Linked DNA regions of Homo sapiens: region 1 is linked to region 2. The links come from fine-mapping of genetic effects on gene expression. A gene starts in region 2. The other region holds a variant in brackets. All regions are shown on one strand. Distances are between the middles of the regions.

Region 1 (4,404 bases), 120 kb after region 2:
ACAAAGCATTCATAAATTGCTTTGTGATCTTGAACAAAGCAACTGACTATTCTACGTTTCATTTTTCTTATGTGCTAGAATAAGGAGGTCAGATTAGATGATTTTCAAGATAGCTTTTAGTCCTTGTCATTCATGATTCTAAGATCCTAAACAGTGTTCAATAAATTTTTTAAAGAATAATAAATAGATAACTACATAATTTAATATAAATTAAGGCAACAGGTATACAAAATAAACTCATCAACTCGAAAAGAAAAAAAAACTACATGAAAACAATTAGGCATTAACTGGAAAAATAATCAAATGCATTTTTTATTTTGAGAATTTCAGAGACACAGCCTGGGACACCTATTGTAATTTCCATTTGGAAAATTATCATTTGTAGTCACTTTATAAGTTACAATTAAAAGAGGAAAGATATATTATTTAGAATATTGAATAAAAAGTTTCAAATAGTGAGCCTTGTGATAATAAAGTAATTACAGATTTTTTTGTTTGTATTTTCAAACTGAGCTCTATAATAAATAGCCTGAGTTCACTGGAATGTGCCATCCTTAGAAATATTTACGTTAATTTGTAATTACTTGAAAAGTTAAAAAACAACAACAAAGATGATTATCGTGAGTGAGTGTGTCTCCAAATGTAAAAAGTGTGCTTTACAAACTATGCCAGATCCTGCTATCGGAAGACAAATCAATGTTGTTAGGAGATGGTGCTAGTGCATTCAGTTTGTTTACTTTGGTTTCTATGTCTGCCTGCCTTCTCAGAAAACTTGCTTGGAGCCAGACTGTAGCAGCCCTCTCTGTCTTTTCATAATTGATCAGGGGATGACTGCCTTCCCTGAGGGTTAAGACGTGGCAACTTTTTCTGTTTGCTCAGCATCTCAATGCAGTAGTTCAAACATTGTTCACACCAGCTGGCAGTGTAATGCCATATGCACATCTTGTCAAAGCAACTGTTGTCATGGATACTAGAAACTCTCTTAAAAACCAGATCATTGATTACAATCAAAATTGTACTTTTTATCAGCTGAAATTCTTAATTATTATATAGGAATATTAATCCAATAATGTTTTCTCATTGTGAAAAATTTATCTTGTATTCAAAAACAGTAAATAACATATTAGGCCAATGATTTAGTTTAGTTTTATGTGTTGAAAAATTTCATCATTAGTGTTCATTGAACTCAGTTGTTGAGAGAGAAAATGAATTTTTTAAGAGACTCTTAAAAGTTTTTGTTAATTAGTGTATACTCCTACCTTTAGAAGAATTTACTATGCATTTTGGTCTATGGCACTAGCTTTTATATGTTAAGTTTATATAGTACATTTACTGAACTGTTCCTCCTCCAGTAAATGAAATGCTTACATTAATTTCTTATGTTAAGTTTTATTTTCCTAAGTGGGAAAGAAAACATAAAAATAAATGAAAACATCTTCTATTTTGATTGGTATTCTGTCACACATAGAAACAAACCTGATTGGTTGAGTGGTAATTTCTTTGTTCTCTGATTTTGCTAAGAATGCAAATGAAAACCACTCAATTTTATTTGGCATTAAAACTGCACTTTATTTTGTCAAAGGAGAGGTTTCCCCTTGAATTGTAAGTACAAAAAAAGTGTTTTTAATCTTTAGTGAAAATCCTTATTAATTCACTTTCAAGATAATCTGATGTTGATTTGTCAAATTTAATTACAGCTTCCGGTAACACTTGAAGTCTACTGCTTTTGCCTCAAAATTGTAATATGAAAATGCAAATTGAATGATAATTTAAAAGGGAGTGGGCATTTTAGT[T/TA]AACACTCAAAGACAAGTTCCTTGTGGAAATGAGGTTATTGATGCAGTTTATGATTTTTATCCTCTTTAAGCACTTTAAACAAATTAACTTTATTTCCTGTAGGATTGCATGTTTCTCTGTGATTTGGAGTAAAAAGTTATATATGTGTGTTTGGCAATTTTTTTCATATTAGAAGATAAACAACAATGATTCTCTCTAGAAAGGAATATGGGAGTTCTTGTACATTGAAGCCTTTTACTATTAACCAAGAGATAATTGATAACTTAACTTTCAACAAAATATTTAGATAAGGTTTCATTTTTACTTCTAGGCTCTCCAGGCAGCAAGACAACTTCTTTTACAGCAGCAAACAAGTGGATTGAAATCTCCTAAGAGCAGTGATAAACAGAGACCACTGCAGGTTAGTAAAGCACTCCTGTCCTTGGGGTCTTATTTTAAAAGATGTTCATAATGATAACAGATGTGCAGACCCACTTGTATATATACAGGAAATTATTACATTTGCATATGTAGGTAATTTTAATTCATAAAGAGAATTCATTTTATCTTCTTAAAGGAGAAAAAAATAATATTCTATTGGCATACATTTTAAAAGTTTACAAGGTAACTCCTTGCAAAAAATACATAGGAACCATATTTGGTGTACATAGGCATAAAGAATTTTGCATAAAACCCCCTTGTGGGATTTTATTCATACATAGGTTGAAATGTAAAATTTTTTTCTTAAAAGCAAAGTTATAGTAAAATGGTGTGGAAGGAAACAAAGAAGTCTTAGACAACCCTTCCGCAGTTGTATCCAAGTGACAAATGCAGAAAACTTCGAGGATTGCCAAAAAAACTGTTTGAGTTTGCCAAGGAGTTATTGCTGGTGCTACAGTTATAAAAACACATTCTGGAGTTTGTTGTCCTTACTCACTATGTTTGTCCTGTGAAACTGATAGTATGTATGTCTTTTAAAGTAACTTTTGTTACATAATATAATCCTTGTTTTATGCAGTCTTCTTAACCAAAATATGTGGGACATTTTCTTGGTGGGGGGGGAAACATTTTTAAGGTATATTTTTTGACTGTTTGGAAGGTAAATTCTGGAATTGCATAAAACATCTCTCAAAGTGTTCACCAGCTCTGTTGAAAGATAAGTAATGCTTTTTCCTGAATCATGTGTTATATACATGTCTAATAAGGCAAATTTAGTTTTTTAACATCTCTTGTGGCTTTAACAAAAAAAACAAAACAAAACAATTTTTTATGGCCCAGCTGTCTGTTTTTATTTTCAGGTGTACTTACAGATGTTAGTAACTAAGTCTTACATGATGGCCTTCTGGAGCTTAGTTTGTATAAGAGAGAATTATAAGCTACTGATCTGTACAATCCAAAAATTAGTTATTACCTAAAAACTGGATAAAATGTATGGTCCCTAAACAAATTTGAGATAAGAACCGATTTTCCTGGGAACAAAGTCATCTGTGGAGGGTGGATGAGAAGAAGAGGGACTTGGGGATAAGGGATGTTTCAACAGAGTACAGATGTCTGCCATGACTGGAAATGAAAGTTTTATTTAATCACCCTGAGTTTAAGATTCTTTTCAGTTTTTTTTTCTCTTTTAAAAGCAACTTCACATTCCTTTGTTTTAACTAATGAATAATTCTGTGTCACTTTCCTCACCATCATATTCTTCCCCAATTTATAATGGGAGCGTAGGTGTAGTATTTCCATGGAGTTATCTGATTGCATGAGAGTCTCTTCATGCATTTACATGACAGAGAAAAATTTACATAGAAGTCACAGAAGATAGCAAATGAAATGTTTATCCTCACTATGGCTTCAGAGTGGGAATTTTGCTTTCTTGTTGGAATAGAAAAGGAGAATTAGATGCTGGCAACATAAGCAAAAGATAGGAATGAAGTTACTGTTTTGAGTGTCTAAAAAACACTATATATTTTCCTAATTCTATTTTATCATATTTCTTGACAAAATAGAGGAATTCGCAGTTGCTTCTTCCTCTCCAAAGCTAAGTCCAGTAGAAGTTTCTATATTGCTGGTTACCAGGGTATCTCTGGAAAGAATGGCTGGGCTTTAGTTTTTCTTTTCTTTTTTTTTTTTTTTTTTTTTGTTGTTGTTGTTGCATTGAAAGGCAAGATTTGATACTTGGACTAAAATATACGTACTTTTCCTTACAAAATACCCACAATAGAATGTGGGAATATTAATGGCTCTAAAATAAGAAATTGTTGTTTGTTTATCAATGCAGAAGTAAAATTTTGAGCAGAAGTGTCCAGTCTTGTTGTTTTAGCATAAAAGAATGATTAAAACTATTATAAATACCTTTTAACAATTGCAGTTGCTGACCATGACTACAAAGACTTTCATTGTGTCACTTGTTTTTCATTTTGTGATGCATATTAATCTGAATTTATCTCCATTGTTTAGACTGTAAAACTAGCATTTCAGTATTAGTTTGTAATTTTAATGAGATCTCATGCCAAAATGTCATAGGAACGAGAAGTTGAGTTTTATGAATGAGAATTTAGGGATATTGAATGAGACTTATTCACCAAAATATACACTGCAATTAATAAAATGTGAGCCTTCATTTTTAGTATTTCATAG
Region 2 (4,404 bases):
TTTTACTTAAAAAAATGAATTTACATATTTATAACAATATTTTTGAATGTCAGAGGTATCAATTTTTTTAACTTTTGTTGGTAAAAATGAGTGTAAGCTTTTAAATTTTATGTTAATTGCTACTACACTGCTTTCTAGGTTGATAAGGCACTATTGCTGAAGAGCATTATGTTATCATTTTAGTGAATGTAAACAGATTTGTGTGAAAATGTTATTTGACTGATGTGATAATGGAAACTATCCTTTATTTCCTCTGGAGTACATAAAGTCATTTGTGTCATTGTATACATTATTCACAGTTTCTTTGAAATGTGGAAGCCCTGTAAACTGTGAAGAGTTGGGAGAAAAAATTTTTAAATGAACAAAGCAGACTTAAAAAATATATTCCTGATACTTGAATATTCGCAGTTGTTTAATTCCCTTAAAATATAAGTTACTATTGCTCATATAATTTCATTTGCTTTGTTCACAATCTGATAAAAAAATGTTAAAAATAAATGTTTACAGGTACTTGCCTATTGCATGAGTTTCCTGTGTTTAAATTTTGGTTTAAAAAAAAACCAATATAAACATACTTTTAATGAGTGAATTATTTAACTATAAAATGAAAAAAATTGCTAACAGAATATTAAACGGTTTTGTATCACAGAGCTAAAGAATAAGTGCTTTCAGTTCCTTTCAGGGGAGGTGGAGAAATAGTGCAGCCTCAGGGGTTGAAGGTGAAATGTGAAATTTGCTGTAATTACTTACCCAAAATGTCTGTATTAAAGGCTATTAGAAGCAGTTATTTTAAGTACTTCTTTATACATCTTTCCCTCTTCTGTTTAGTATTTAAATGTGCAACAAAAGTAGTGGCAGATGTTACTCATCTGAAGAAACTAAAACAAGATAAGTCAGTGGCAGGAGTGGTGGCCGGTTAAAGATCTCTTCGAAGTGCTTTGTTCAGTAACTGTTGTTTTGTCTCACATTAAGTTGTAGGTGGGGTGCTGTTAAAGCTTGTCCACTCACGATGGTGTTCAGCTGAGACCTGTGAGTTCAAGTTGTCTTGCCCAGAGTTAAAGGCCATAAAACTAAGACAGTGTCGTTCCTGTCTTGGGTGTAACTCCTAAAAAACTAGTCAGTTCTTGCAATAGGAGGAAAATTATTGCAAATAAACCTTTGATTTACCAGCTTCAGTAAGTTGTTCATTCTGTCTCTGTAGCTGTAGTTTTTACCTTAACAGTTTGAGGCTACCATTTCTCTTCCTTTCATGCTTATGGGGTCCACACAAACCCTGCTAGGCTACCTACAGTATAAAATCTTAAAACTCCATGTGGTGTTGTGAGCTGGTAGCAGATGGACTTTCTTTTGCATCTGCTGTGTACAGACTTGGCTTTGTACTCTTTTCCTGGGGGAGAGAAAGTCTTTCTTCTCTGCTAGTTGATTCCTGTTTTTGTGAAACAGCTAAGAAAACATCTGTGGCAGGCAGAAAAATTGACAAAGGATTGACAAACACCATTAGCTGAAAATTTTCCATTTCATTGCAACTATGCATTGTTTACTTTACTGTAAATATCTTAATACATCATCCTCTGAATATGCTGGCAGAGAAGCTGGAGAACTGTGATTTCAATTAAGGTTAGTAATTGATGGTATCTAGTGTTCAAAGGCTGAAGCTTGATTAACATCTGCTTGGACAAATTGTCATTGTGAAGTGGTTTTGATGTGCATTGAAGATTATTTCTTTCTGGCTTATCTGATGTTGTGGCTGTGAAATGCTTGTCTTGGGTTTGCTTATTTTTGTAAACTACTTCCTTTGGCTGTAAATTGCAGAGCACTGGAGCTTTACCAAAAGTGCAGTGTATAATGGTAAGCTTGTCCTAATAAGGGAAGCAAGAAGTGTATTTATCACAGACATGAAAGCTAACCGAGGACTTGAGAGACTCAAACTGGTGCTTTTGTCTCTCTCTCTCTGTCTTTCTCTCTCTCACACACACACTCACACACTCACACACATGCACACACACACATACACACACACAAAAATGAAGCACTTACTTTAGAAAGATTATGGTAAGCATGCTGGCTCAGTCTTGAACCTTTGTCACCCCTCACGTTGCACACCAAAGACATACCCTAGTGATTAAATGCTGATTTTGTGTACGATTGTCCACGGACGCCAAAACAATCACAGAGCTGCTTGATTTGTTTTAATTACCAGCACAAAATGCCATCAGTCTGGGACGTGATCGGGCAGAGGTGTACTCACAGTAGTGTAAATACTGCTGTAAATAGTTGTCTGATGGTGGCTTTGACAGTGAGCTAGCTTCTGAGTTTTCCCTTCTTTTTATACTGTTTTCTGTGCTGGCTTTTTTGAATCTTCCTAATTTTTCATCTCTTTAACAAACTCCTATGAAGTTGAAACCGGGAAGTTTGCTCTAACATTTCCAGAGAAGGTACGTTACTTTTTGCTAAGAGAATATCTGTAAGAGTTTAGAGAGGGGTGGGATTTTACGATTGCTTTACTGGTAGATTTGGCAATTGCTTTACTTTTTTTTTTTTCTGAGACTGTAGCTCATTGAAATGAACTAGAGCATTGTATCTGTTTGCGAGGGAAAAGCCGGGAGACCAGACACAGGAACTGTTTTTGATCTGTCAGTAGCGTAATGTAGATTTAAGCTATCACTAGTAAAGACAGCAAATAAAGAAGGCCTCTTTTGTATTAAAAAAAAATCTGCAAGATCTTGAGAAGAATAAAGACAGGGTTCCTGCTTTCATGGTTTGATAATAACCATGTCATCTTGCTTTTAGTAAATGCCCCAGTATGTGTCAGGGCGCAAGTTTTTGAAAAGGGAGTTTGACCACACGTTTGGGTGCCTCTCTGTGCCGTGCTGTGTAGAGCAGATGTTTATTTTGTGCTAAAGGGGAAACTCTTTTTGCTAAGCTTGTACAAACATGAAAGGAGTCAGGGCTCAGATGATCTTTGTAGTTTTATATGCATGTTCATGATTTTATTAAAAATTGGTTGGTGGGTCTTTTTCAAATCACTGATTGTGAAGAAATATATATATTTCCAGGAATACACATTGTGAATTGATGAGTAATTTTTAGAAACTGCATTATATTTCTTCAAATAGGTGTGATAGTTTAATACTCGTGTCAGTTAAAAAGGTAGCTTGGCTGGGCTATAAATTACCATTTCTGCACTTTTCATTCTGTCTGCTTCAAAAAAGCGTCTCAGAACCTGGGATCCTATTGGGCCCATCATAGGGCTACAGTAATTGCCTGATGACAACTGAAAATGATAGAATAATTGTCAAGAGAGACATTTTTAATGGGCAAGGTGATTTAAGTATGCATGAACAAGCTATGAGGGAAGATGAGCTTGTTTATGATGCAAGCCAGTATAAACACAGTCGGAGGATGACACAGATAGCTGCACTTTTCCCAGTGACATGAGCAAGTTCTTACTGCAACACCAACAGCTTTTTCCTCTGACCAGTTTGACATTCTTCACCTTCAGGTAATAACGCCTAAATTTCATCCATGTATTTTCACTTTACTGTAGCCTAAGTGACAGGTTTTTGTTTACTAGCCTCCGCGACCAAAAAAAAAAAAAAAAAAAGCACTCTATTTAATGTGTGCTTAGAATAGATCTTGAATCACTTTCACCGTCAATAGTGTGTGTAATACAAAACTTTCATTCTTATTTTCGATTGTTCCTTATCTTTGAACTGTTCTGACTTTAAATCTGATTATCTATAGTTGATTCATAATGCCCTTTTAAAGGCATATTTATTTGTCTTTACAGTCAGCCCTTCTGCTGTACAAGTTTGGAAACAAAGTATACTTGAGAATATGTGGAGAGGTTTAATGATTAGCCTGTTGGTTTTCACGGAAAGCAGAGTCCTATACCTAACAGAGATTACGGTATTGAAGGGTTACAGGTATCTGTTTAGAAATATGGTGCTCTATTAGAAAACAACTTGTTTGACTTTTTTTTTTAAACCCATGTAAAATTTCACAGAATATGCTCACGTTTTATTTTAAAGATCACTAAAATTATATGCATTGAAATACTAATAATCTTTGTAAAAGGTGGATAGATAATTTGTTTACTTTATTATTCATGAAGGCAAGTAAGGCATGGTATTCTGCTATTGTGGGCATATTATTAACATTTCATAGGGATTTGTGCTGGAATGTGGAATGCTGCTTCTTCATAATTTAATACTCCTATGCATAATGAGGTTTGTGATTAGTTGATAGAGAGAATTGGCCCAACTCCATTCTGAAAGCAGATAATTTACATTGTTCTCTAGAGTCTAGAATCTAATAGGTTCTTTAGTGCAATAAAATTAAATGCTACATGTTTTAAATTTCAGCATACAAATCCCCCTGGCAATTTTCTGTTTTTAATTTTTG

Which allele goes with the higher level. Positions count from the first base shown, and alleles are read on the strand shown. Sizes are in standard deviations (SD) of each study's normalised expression.
As copies of T replace TA in region 1, the expression in subcutaneous fat of the gene that starts at base 1,890 in region 2 goes up (small effect, 0.23 SD a copy in GTEx).

Evidence for each region. PIP is the estimated chance that this variant, and not a neighbour inherited with it, causes the effect.
Region 1: its variant is the best candidate, but not a certain one, in a credible set for the expression of FOXP2 in subcutaneous fat (GTEx, PIP 0.53).

Annotation. Positions count from the first base shown.
Region 1 is chr7:114,532,513-114,536,916 of GRCh38, forward strand. FOXP2 (forkhead box P2) reads left to right here. Exons shown (of 17, transcript NM_014491.4): 3 at 2,105-2,194. Among named protein-coding and RNA genes, the nearest start is that of MIR3666, 120 kb to the right of the region's middle. The variant T/TA (reference allele first, on the strand shown) is at 1,794.
Region 2 is chr7:114,412,926-114,417,329 of GRCh38, forward strand. FOXP2 (forkhead box P2) reads left to right here and starts at 1,890. Exons shown (of 17, transcript NM_014491.4): 1 at 1,890-2,435. RefSeq lists an enhancer at 3,867-4,404.